Regions from separate parts of the Homo sapiens genome. Here region 1 is reported to be linked to region 2. The links are microRNA targets in miRTarBase. Many come from high-throughput screens and were not tested one by one. Region 2 holds a microRNA gene; the other region holds the end of a gene's coding sequence.
The links. Region 2 holds the annotated microRNA hsa-miR-3660 (ACUGACAGGAGAGCAUUUUGA, at 3,131-3,151, shown strand). A microRNA usually pairs through its seed, bases 2 to 8, with sites in the 3' UTR of a target mRNA and lowers its output. Matches are read on the target gene's strand: a 7mer-m8 pairs with bases 2 to 8, a 7mer-A1 pairs with bases 2 to 7 and ends in A, and an 8mer does both.

Region 1: the mRNA of PIGS is a reported target of hsa-miR-3660. Seed matches in the 3' UTR shown: 7mer-m8 at 1,036-1,042 and 7mer-A1 at 1,124-1,130.

Annotation. Positions count from the first base shown.
Region 1 is chr17:28,551,766-28,554,765 of GRCh38, reverse strand. It overlaps PIGS (phosphatidylinositol glycan anchor biosynthesis class S), which reads left to right. Exons shown (of 12, transcript NM_033198.4): 12 at 271-1,379. The coding sequence ends at 546. UNC119 (unc-119 lipid binding chaperone) reads left to right here and starts at 2,142. Exons shown (of 5, transcript NM_005148.4): 1 at 2,142-2,428. The coding sequence starts at 2,209. RefSeq lists silencers at 1,966-2,415, 2,476-2,525.
Region 2 is chr5:90,013,394-90,019,791 of GRCh38, reverse strand. It overlaps MIR3660 (microRNA 3660), which reads left to right and starts at 3,072; the gene lies at 3,072-3,171. RefSeq lists an enhancer at 5,032-5,081.

The DNA of each region.
Region 1 (3,000 bases), not on the chromosome of region 2:
GGTCCATGGTATGTGTGGGCTTGCCATCTTTAGTGTCCCAGCCTTCCTCTAGACGGCAGTACCAGCCCCCAAGCAGGAGTGCAGATGAGAGTGCGAGGTTTCAAGCTGACCCTAGGAAAATAAACCATATCCCTGTAGAAAGACTTCCATAGATCCTGGATGAACTCCAGGCATCTTCCTTGGTAGATGGAAGGCACAGTAAGGCCCAGCACCCTTTCCACCAATGCCTAGGACTTACTGGTATACCCTCTTGTCCCTTCTCCTTCCTAGGTGTACAAGGCTGTAGCTGCCGTCCAGAAGTCGGCAGAAGAGTTGGCGTCTGGGCACCTGGCATCTGCCTTTGTCGCCAGCCAGGAAGCTGTGACATCCTCTGAGCTTGCCTTCTTTGACCCGTCACTCCTCCACCTCCTTTATTTCCCTGATGACCAGAAGTTTGCCATCTACATCCCACTCTTCCTGCCTATGGCTGTGCCCATCCTCCTGTCCCTGGTCAAGATCTTCCTGGAGACCCGCAAGTCCTGGAGAAAGCCTGAGAAGACAGACTGAGCAGGGCAGCACCTCCATAGGAAGCCTTCCTTTCTGGCCAAGGTGGGCGGTGTTAGATTGTGAGGCACGTACATGGGGCCTGCCGGAATGACTTAAATATTTGTCTCCAGTCTCCACTGTTGGCTCTCCAGCAACCAAAGTACAACACTCCAAGATGGGTTCATCTTTTCTTCCTTTCCCATTCACCTGGCTCAATCCTCCTCCACCACCAGGGGCCTCAAAAGGCACATCATCCGGGTCTCCTTATCTTGTTTGATAAGGCTGCTGCCTGTCTCCCTCTGTGGCAAGGACTGTTTGTTCTTTTGCCCCATTTCTCAACATAGCACACTTGTGCACTGAGAGGAGGGAGCATTATGGGAAAGTCCCTGCCTTCCACACCTCTCTCTAGTCCCTGTGGGACAGCCCTAGCCCCTGCTGTCATGAAGGGGCCAGGCATTGGTCACCTGTGGGACCTTCTCCCTCACTCCCCTCCCTCCTAGTTGGCTTTGTCTGTCAGGTGCAGTCTGGCGGGAGTCCAGGAGGCAGCAGCTCAGGACATGGTGCTGTGTGTGTGTGTGTGTGTGTGTGTGTGTGTGTGTGTCAGAGGTTCCAGAAAGTTCCAGATTTGGAATCAAACAGTCCTGAATTCAAATCCTTGTTTTTGCACTTATTGTCTGGAGAGCTTTGGATAAGGTATTGAATCTCTCTGAGCCTCAGTTTTTCATTTGTTCAAATGGCACTGATGATGTCTCCCTTACAAGATGGTTGTGAGGAGTAAATGTGATCAGCATGTAAAGTGTCTGGCGTGTAGTAGGCTCTTAATAAACACTGGCTGAATATGAATTGGAATGATACAAAGTCTGAGCTCTACTCTTTCTGCATTCACGCGTAAGTAACAGTTTCCTGGTGTTTGTCCTCCTGTGCCCACAGGTCCACTTTGCTTCCACGTGGCCATGTGCCCTTCCTAGCTGGATTGCCCAAGGCTGTTAGCATCTGCTTTTTACCTGAGATACTAATTCATCAGGTCAAAAAAAAAAAAAAAAAAAAAAAAAAAGTCTTGAGCACCAGCTGCAGGGAGCCTTCTGCTAGGTACAGGGGTCCTACAGAGAACAAAGTAGGCAGGACCAGTGCTTTCACAGAGCTGAGCTTTCAGGGGGAAGAGTCAGCGGACAAATAAAAATAATTTCACATAATGCATTAGAAAGACAAAAACAGGCTGGTCAGATGGTGACTGAGGGGGAAGGACTTCAGACTGGGTGTGAGGGAGGCCCTTTGAGCAGATGACATTTGAGCTGTGACTAGGAGAAAAGAGGCCATCTGGGGAAGACCATCCAAGCAGAGACCCTGAGCCTGGAACTCACGGGCAGAAAGGCTGGAACACAATGAGTAAGCGGAGAGGTAGTCAGGACCCCACTAGTACCAGTACAAGAAAGTGTTAGAAAAACAGAATGAAGCCCAGGGCAGGATACCCCGACTCCCATCCCCCGCGCCCGTCGCATTTCGGGAGGGTTGGGCCGGGCGGCGGGCGGGATCAGCGCAGGGCCCACCCCAGGGGCGGGGCCGGGGCGGGGCAGTACCTGGGGCCCCGGCCGGGGGCGGGGCTGCGGATGCTCCCACTTCCCCCGGCTCCAGCCGGCGCAGGCAGCGGCGGCAGCAGCAGGCGAGCCTCGGCCCCGCAAGGCCATGAAGGTGAAGAAGGGCGGCGGTGGGGCCGGGACGGCGACGGAGTCCGCTCCGGGGCCCTCGGGCCAGAGCGTGGCCCCCATACCACAGCCGCCTGCGGAATCCGAATCTGGGTCCGAGTCGGAGCCGGACGCAGGCCCAGGGCCCAGGCCGGGGCCGCTGCAGAGGAAGCAGCCGATCGGGCCGGAGGACGTGCTGGGGCTGCAGCGGATCACCGGTGGTGAGCACCCGCGAGGGAGCGCCGCCCGCGGGTGGGAAGGGGAGAGGGTGCGAGGGGCCCTCCCGGCGCGCCAAGCCCTGGCCCCCGCCCCCTTTCCCGCCTCCCCTCCCCCACCGAGTCCCCTCTCCTGTGTCCCCTGCTCTCCCTTCTGCCGCCAGGTCTGAGATCTCTGTGTACCCCCTTCCCTTGATCTCTCTCTGTGCCTCCTTCTTCTCCCTTTCGAGATTTATTCCTTCCTTTTCCAGGGGCCCGTCCCCTTTTCCCAGCGTGGAGGTACGTGCGGCAGCAGCTGCAACCATAGCCCTGTAGCTGTGGAGTCTCCAGAGCGCTTTGAGGCCCGTCCCTGCACTAATGAAGAGAGGGGCTGAGTGCAGCCTGTCCTCAGCCCCCACGCTGGAGGCTAGGTGGAGGCTGAGTTACTTGGGAGGCATTCAGACTCTTCATGTCTCCCCAACCATTAATACCCTCACCCTGATCCTCCAGGAAGACTTGGGCCATTTTCTTCCCCGGGAAAGAAACTGAGCAGGCAGCTTTAGTGTGTTGGCTGTGGTTCCTCTCATGGGGAGTGGCAT
Region 2 (6,398 bases):
TGGCCATAATCTCAAGCAATTATTACCGTTTTAACATATTTTTCCAGTCTTTTTAAAAATATGCATTTTTATATGTTCAATGATTTTATATTATAATATTAGGCAAAATGTAAAACAAAACTTGTAATGGCTGTATTTCACTCTAACATATATATTTGCTCACCATTCCGATATAATAACGTATCTTTAATTTTAATTCCTCATTATTTCTTACTATACATGATGCTAAAGAGAACATTTATATATATACATCTTTGTCTAATTTTAGATGATTTCTTTATGTTAATCTCCTAGAAATAAAATTTGGGGTCAAAGGTATGAAAATTTTAGTTAAAAAATGATATTGCTAAATTGCTTTCAAGGGAGGTGTTACTGATTTAGAATTCCAAATCAAGATCCCGAAAGAGTTCTTGTTTTTATTATAGCTAAACAGTTTTTTTTCTGATGAGATTTTAAATGATTACAAGTCATATAATTATCAGAAAATTATTTAATCTCTCCATTCCTCAGGTTCCTCTGTGAAACAGAAATAATCATGGTACCTATCTCATAGGTTCATTATGAGTTTGATGTACGTAAAATTTGTACATACTGCCCAACATAAAATACTAATGTATTTTGTCAACAAATACATTATACTTGTCTATGTATTAGACAAATTATATATTGTTCCACTTATATTCTTTTACTTTAGACTCCATATATTTGGTAGCAAAAAAAATTCCAAATGGTTTAAATTAATGTTAAGAACTTTCACATATTAAAAATAATCTTAAATATAGATGTCCAAAATGGTAAAACAGACCTCATTAAATTATTACGTTTCATCACAATATTTACAGTGCTGCCTAGGTCACGTTCTTTCTCTCCCTTAAGTCTCCAAACTTCTAGCAGCATTGTCAATTGGCTCCTCATTGTGGTTCTTGCAACACTTTCAAACAGAAAAATGGTGCTAAGTTTTCAGATGCTTCCACTAAACTTTAGTGGGAGATGATAGGGCAGCCCATTTAGATTTTGTGGAGCCTAAAGATCATGCAATTGTGGAAGTGTTTTTAATGGAAAATAATAACTATGAATTTAAAAACTGCTAGCATCCCTGCTAGGTTCTTGCAAGGGAGTCATTTAGGGGAAGAGCCCTAAATTTACATTAGCTTCTAGGTAAATCACCTACTGCTTCTTGGCATGCCCCACCACTCTTTTCAGCGTATCTTTCACAGAGTATGTTCTCAATACACATTTGTTGATGTGAATAGGAGTTAGAGAATTATTATAGATGCCACACTATTGTACATAGACAAAAGTGTTAGTCACAGTTCCCAGTGATCCCCATATTGCAGTAATGTGGAAATATAAATTTGACAGCATGTTAAATATAAAGGATAAAATCAACCCGTGATTTTTCTTCAGACACCCATTATAGCCCCTTGATGTAGAGACTACAAAGAGAATACACCTGGCTCTAACAAAACTTACTTCATTCTGGCTAGCCTTACAATTTGAGATGTTCCGACACTAGGTTCTCTTTTTATGTTCTTACTCTCTAAAATTTTTCTAGTGGAAATGGAGAAGTTGGTTGTCATTTCATTGCTACAATTAAAATTGATCACAGATTTTAATCATGATTACCATTTTGATGGTTAAAGAAAAGCGACTTGGTCATCTCAATAAGAAATACTTTTCAAACTCTTTTATGTTCAGTTTGAGACACCTGAAGATTAAGAGTCTATCAGAACATTCCCAGCCAGTTTGAGCCCTGTCACTAAATACTAACAACAACAAAAAAAAAGTAACAAAAAAAAAAGTTTCCTGTATTATGAAATCCAGAGAGGTAAAGTCTTATTGTAGGTCTTGATTGCCAAAAAAAAAAAAAAAAAAAAAAAAAAAAAACAACCAGCAAAAATGTGAGGGAAATAATACTTTCTGGTGTGCTAAAAGTGACTATGAAGATCAAACTCCTTTAAAATCAAGGAGGGTCTGTGTTTGTGTCAGTCAGCTGCTGTTTTCCTCATTGGAAAAGATTCTTACTTTGAAAACTTAGGTTTCACCAAGCTATTCTGCTACAGTCACCACGGCTTTAATGATTGCCCTTTCCTCAAGTCTATTCTTGTTTACTCCTCAACAGAAAGAACTTTAGATTAGTGTATGTATCTCCATCTTTTCGTGGCTACTGAACCTCCTTTTCTCCTGAACACCTTGTTGAGAACAATTTAAGAGTCTGGCTTTATACTTCCTCTGCAATAAAGAACAAAATGTTCCCGGCATGATAATTCTACTTGGGAATGGATAAGTTCTCATATGCTTAAATTCTGAAAGGTACGTGAGATGGTCTGTTCTAAATGACAGGTTGCCATGGTTACATCCTTCTGTGGCTCACATGGGGATAGGGCCAATTATCAAGTTTTGTTTGGTTGATTTTAAGTAGTTTGTTACCTGGATACTCAACAAATAAGAAAACTGGGGGGAAAAAAGACTTGTTTTCTTCTTCCCTAGAAAGGAAGCAGTCATTGTTGGGGGGAAAGCCCTTAAATTCCAAACAACATGGTAAATTATTTAGTTCAGATAGAGTTTCTAAATTGTTGACTTTATTTCGGGACTAGCATAAGGCCTGTGAACTAAGATAGCTTTAAATGCTATGAATTGGATTTTTTGTTAGCTCTGTTGATCCTATAATATTTGTGTTAAGTAATTCATTCCCCTCCTCTTTTCCAGATTTGTCTGGTGCTTTTCAAATGCGTGTGTGTGTGTGTGTGTGTGTGTATTTTAAGTTAGTCCTTTTGTGAGTTTTGCTGCTCGGCCTCATTCCTCCCTCCCATGGTGGAAGTAAGATTGTTAATTAATGATATTCCAGAGGCAATTTCTGGAGTGACTATTGGAAAACCCTTCTTAATTAACAAAATGATAAATTCCCCACTGCAGCAGTGCTGCAAGTGAAGTTCATCTGTGTCATTCAAAATCTATGATTTTAAAACATTCTCTGACATTTTTTTGAGGATATTGGGCATTTAAAGTCTGGATCTTTTATCAAAGTTTCCGTAGCCAGCTGGAGAAGGAGAAATGCAGAGTGAAAAGGAGAAAGAAGAACTGGACAAAATTAAAATGCTCTTCTGTCATTGTAATAGTTCATATGGGCACTGACAGGAGAGCATTTTGACTTTGTCAAGTGTGTCTGCTACTCATTTATTCCATCTCCTGCTTGTTACCGAAGTTTCAGATTAAATGTAAAGATATGAATGTATTGCCATAATAAATTTATAAGTGGATATTTAAAGAGCAAAGATTTGAATGACACAAATGAACCTCGGTATAGCAGTAAAGTGGACAGGATTTGCAGAAAGATGCCACAGAGTCAGAAATGACTGCTGGAATCGCCTTAATTAAAAAAAAAAAAAAAAAAAAAAACTAAAAAAACTTGAGCTTCATAAGCCGCCATAGAAGGTGTCTAATGTGAAATTAGGCTTACTTTACATTATTTATGCCACTTTAAAACGATGTAATAAAAGCTTTCAAAAATCTGATTAAGCTGTATTATTCAAATACAAGGCACTTACTTAAGCAATGGAAAAGCTAAGCTGTTAAATTTGGGGGCAGGGAGTAAGATTCTAGACAAAGTTAAAGCAGCATGTTTTTAAAAATGTATGGTTTCTTTTTAAGATATCTAGAAAATACAATTAACTTTTTGAAATCATATTTAGTTGAGTGAATAGTAATCCCAATGTAGTAAACTGTAGAGATAACACTTTCTAAGGATGCCTTATCTTACTTCCCACAAGAGGCTTAGGGTTCCTTTAAATGTCATGGGAAAACTGCATAACCTAAGATACTCCTGTAGGGTTTGCATAACACTGGTATGCATAATAAGAAAGAAAGCAATGTGAGGGGGCACCCAGCTTCTATGACCTGATGTGTGGTGAGGACCCAGAGCACAGGGCTGAGAAGAAGCAATGGGGAGTTAAAATGAGGACATGGGGATAAATTATTTGACATGATCCTGAGCAGACCTGACTTTTGTAATGACACTCAAACAGCAGATAACCCTGAAGGCAATCTGAAAAAGAAGAATACAGTGGTCACACTAGCAGATAGGAAAGAGATGAGTAAGCTTTTCTGAATTGTCTGAATCACTACTGAAAAGCACGTCCTTCGACTGTGAACACCACTTCTCTTTTCTTCTCATGTCTGCTGCCCTTCGGCTAATACAGTGTAAGAATTCATTTTGTTTATCTGCTCCAACACAGAATAACTCCAGTGAGGATAAAGTTATAAGGATTGTAAGGAAGAGGGAAAGAAAAATGTATACAAAAATAACCATGGAAGTTTCAGAATAATAGCATGAGAAGAAAAAATTTGTTTAGGTTGGTTTTCTGATATTATCCAAATAAATATTACTTTCAAAATCATAATATCTGCCTTGAGCTTAAATGGAGAGAAAGGAAATGGAAAAGTTCCTTACTGAATCTGAGATCTAGTGTTTTGTTTACACTTGAATATAGGTAGTAAATCTTAGGAGCAGTTCAGTTAGAATAATCATTTTAAAATTACTTATGGGACTAAAAAGCTTATGCTTTTAGCAGACCCATTCAGTAAATTGGGGTGAGAGGAGAAAATGGGGCTCTTTAGCAAATGACCAACATCTACAGATTTTGCCTAATAAGACATTTCTATGGGGCAGATGCCTTATCAAACTTTCAAACAATTAAACTTGGTTTTATTATAAAGTCAAGCTGATAGTAAATGTCTTTACTTTTTAAAGTAGATTTTATTGGTTATATAACTACTCACACAAACTGGGAAAAATCATTTTAATGTATGGCACAGATCTTAGATAAATGATATATGAGATAGAATTTCCAGATTCTAGGTATAGGGTACGGTCACAATTTATAAATTGCAAATGAAGGGTATAGTCTGTAAGTAACTAATCTAATCTTTCTCATGACCTCTATGTCACTGAATACTGTGCAGGGAGGGGTGGTGGGATGAAAACTTGACAATTAATGGTCTCCCAGTCTCTTCATATTTTAGACAATTTCTCTTGAAAAAAGAAGAGATTCTTTGGGTTTCCTTTCACCTCCAGATAGCATCTGGGTAGATTGGTGGCAATGAGGATAGTGCTGCTAGTCCCAGCTGGCCTCCTTGGTTGTCATGAAGGCAACCACTACTGAGATTCATGGTCCCAGTTATTTGCATGCAAGTACACTAAAAACTCACCACAATTTCTTAGTCCTGACCCCAGGCCTCTGCTATTTCACCAGTCTTCTCAGTACCTTGAACCCTTACTGAGGCATGCAAAAACTTCTAAGCCCCTCCACATAGGCCTTGGGGACTGGGATCACAGCCTCTGGCTCCTGTCTCTAGCCACCTCCCTGTAACAGCACTGAGCTACCCACCTCCTTCCCTTCCTTCCTCTCCTGCAAGACTATTCCTAGATGTTTGCAATGACTCTCAGGCTTTGGAGAAAGAAGACCTTTGCTATTATGTTCCCAAATTTCCTCATAGATATTTAGAGTTTCTGTAGGCCCCTGCCTCAAGTTTGGCCCCTTTTGCTGCACCTCTGACTCTCGTCTTGATCCTTATTCCATTAGGGCCAAGAGGGGGAGGGCTGTCTACTTTCTCTTTCTATATGGAAGCACTTAACCTAAGCTATGCACTCCTTTTCAGTTTCACTGAATTTTTCCTGCTTCATTTAACTCAAAATGCAGTCATCAAATCTTTATAATCCCATCAAGTCCCTGTGAACTCAACCCCCACCACGTCTCTGATTTTACCTTCTACTAGTTTTCCTGTTTTTTATTTCACTCCAGGTACATAGACTTCCCTATTTTTCCTTGAAAATGCCAAAGGTGCTCCAACCTCGGGAACTTTCATTTATTTTTTCTCTCTGTCTGGAATTCACATATGCCATACATTAACATGGCTTGTTTCCTCATTTTTAATTTCCTCATCTCTTTTATATAACCTCTTGTCATAGACCCCTTTTGTGCTCACCTTAAGTGAAGTGGAAATTTTCCTTCCCTCCACCATGTCCAGCTCTCTATTTCCTTATGCTTCTTTGGTATATCTTCATGGTACCATTCATCTCAATATCATGTATTTACTGTACATATATTTTTATCATCAGTATTTTCCTATCTGAATGTAAACTCTGTAAGACTGGGATTCTGTTTTACTGAATAGGATAGCCCTAGTACTTAGAATAGTATCCAGCACATAGTGATGAATACACACACAGGCATATGTGAATTCAGCATGCATCCATACATATATTTGTCATGAGTGGGTGAATAAATGTTAGATGATATGCAGAAAGATAAAATGGATCACTAGAAGAAAACATGCATGGGGAGATATCTCCAAAAAGAATTTCCAGCACAGAGATTACTTATATTTCATATGTTAAT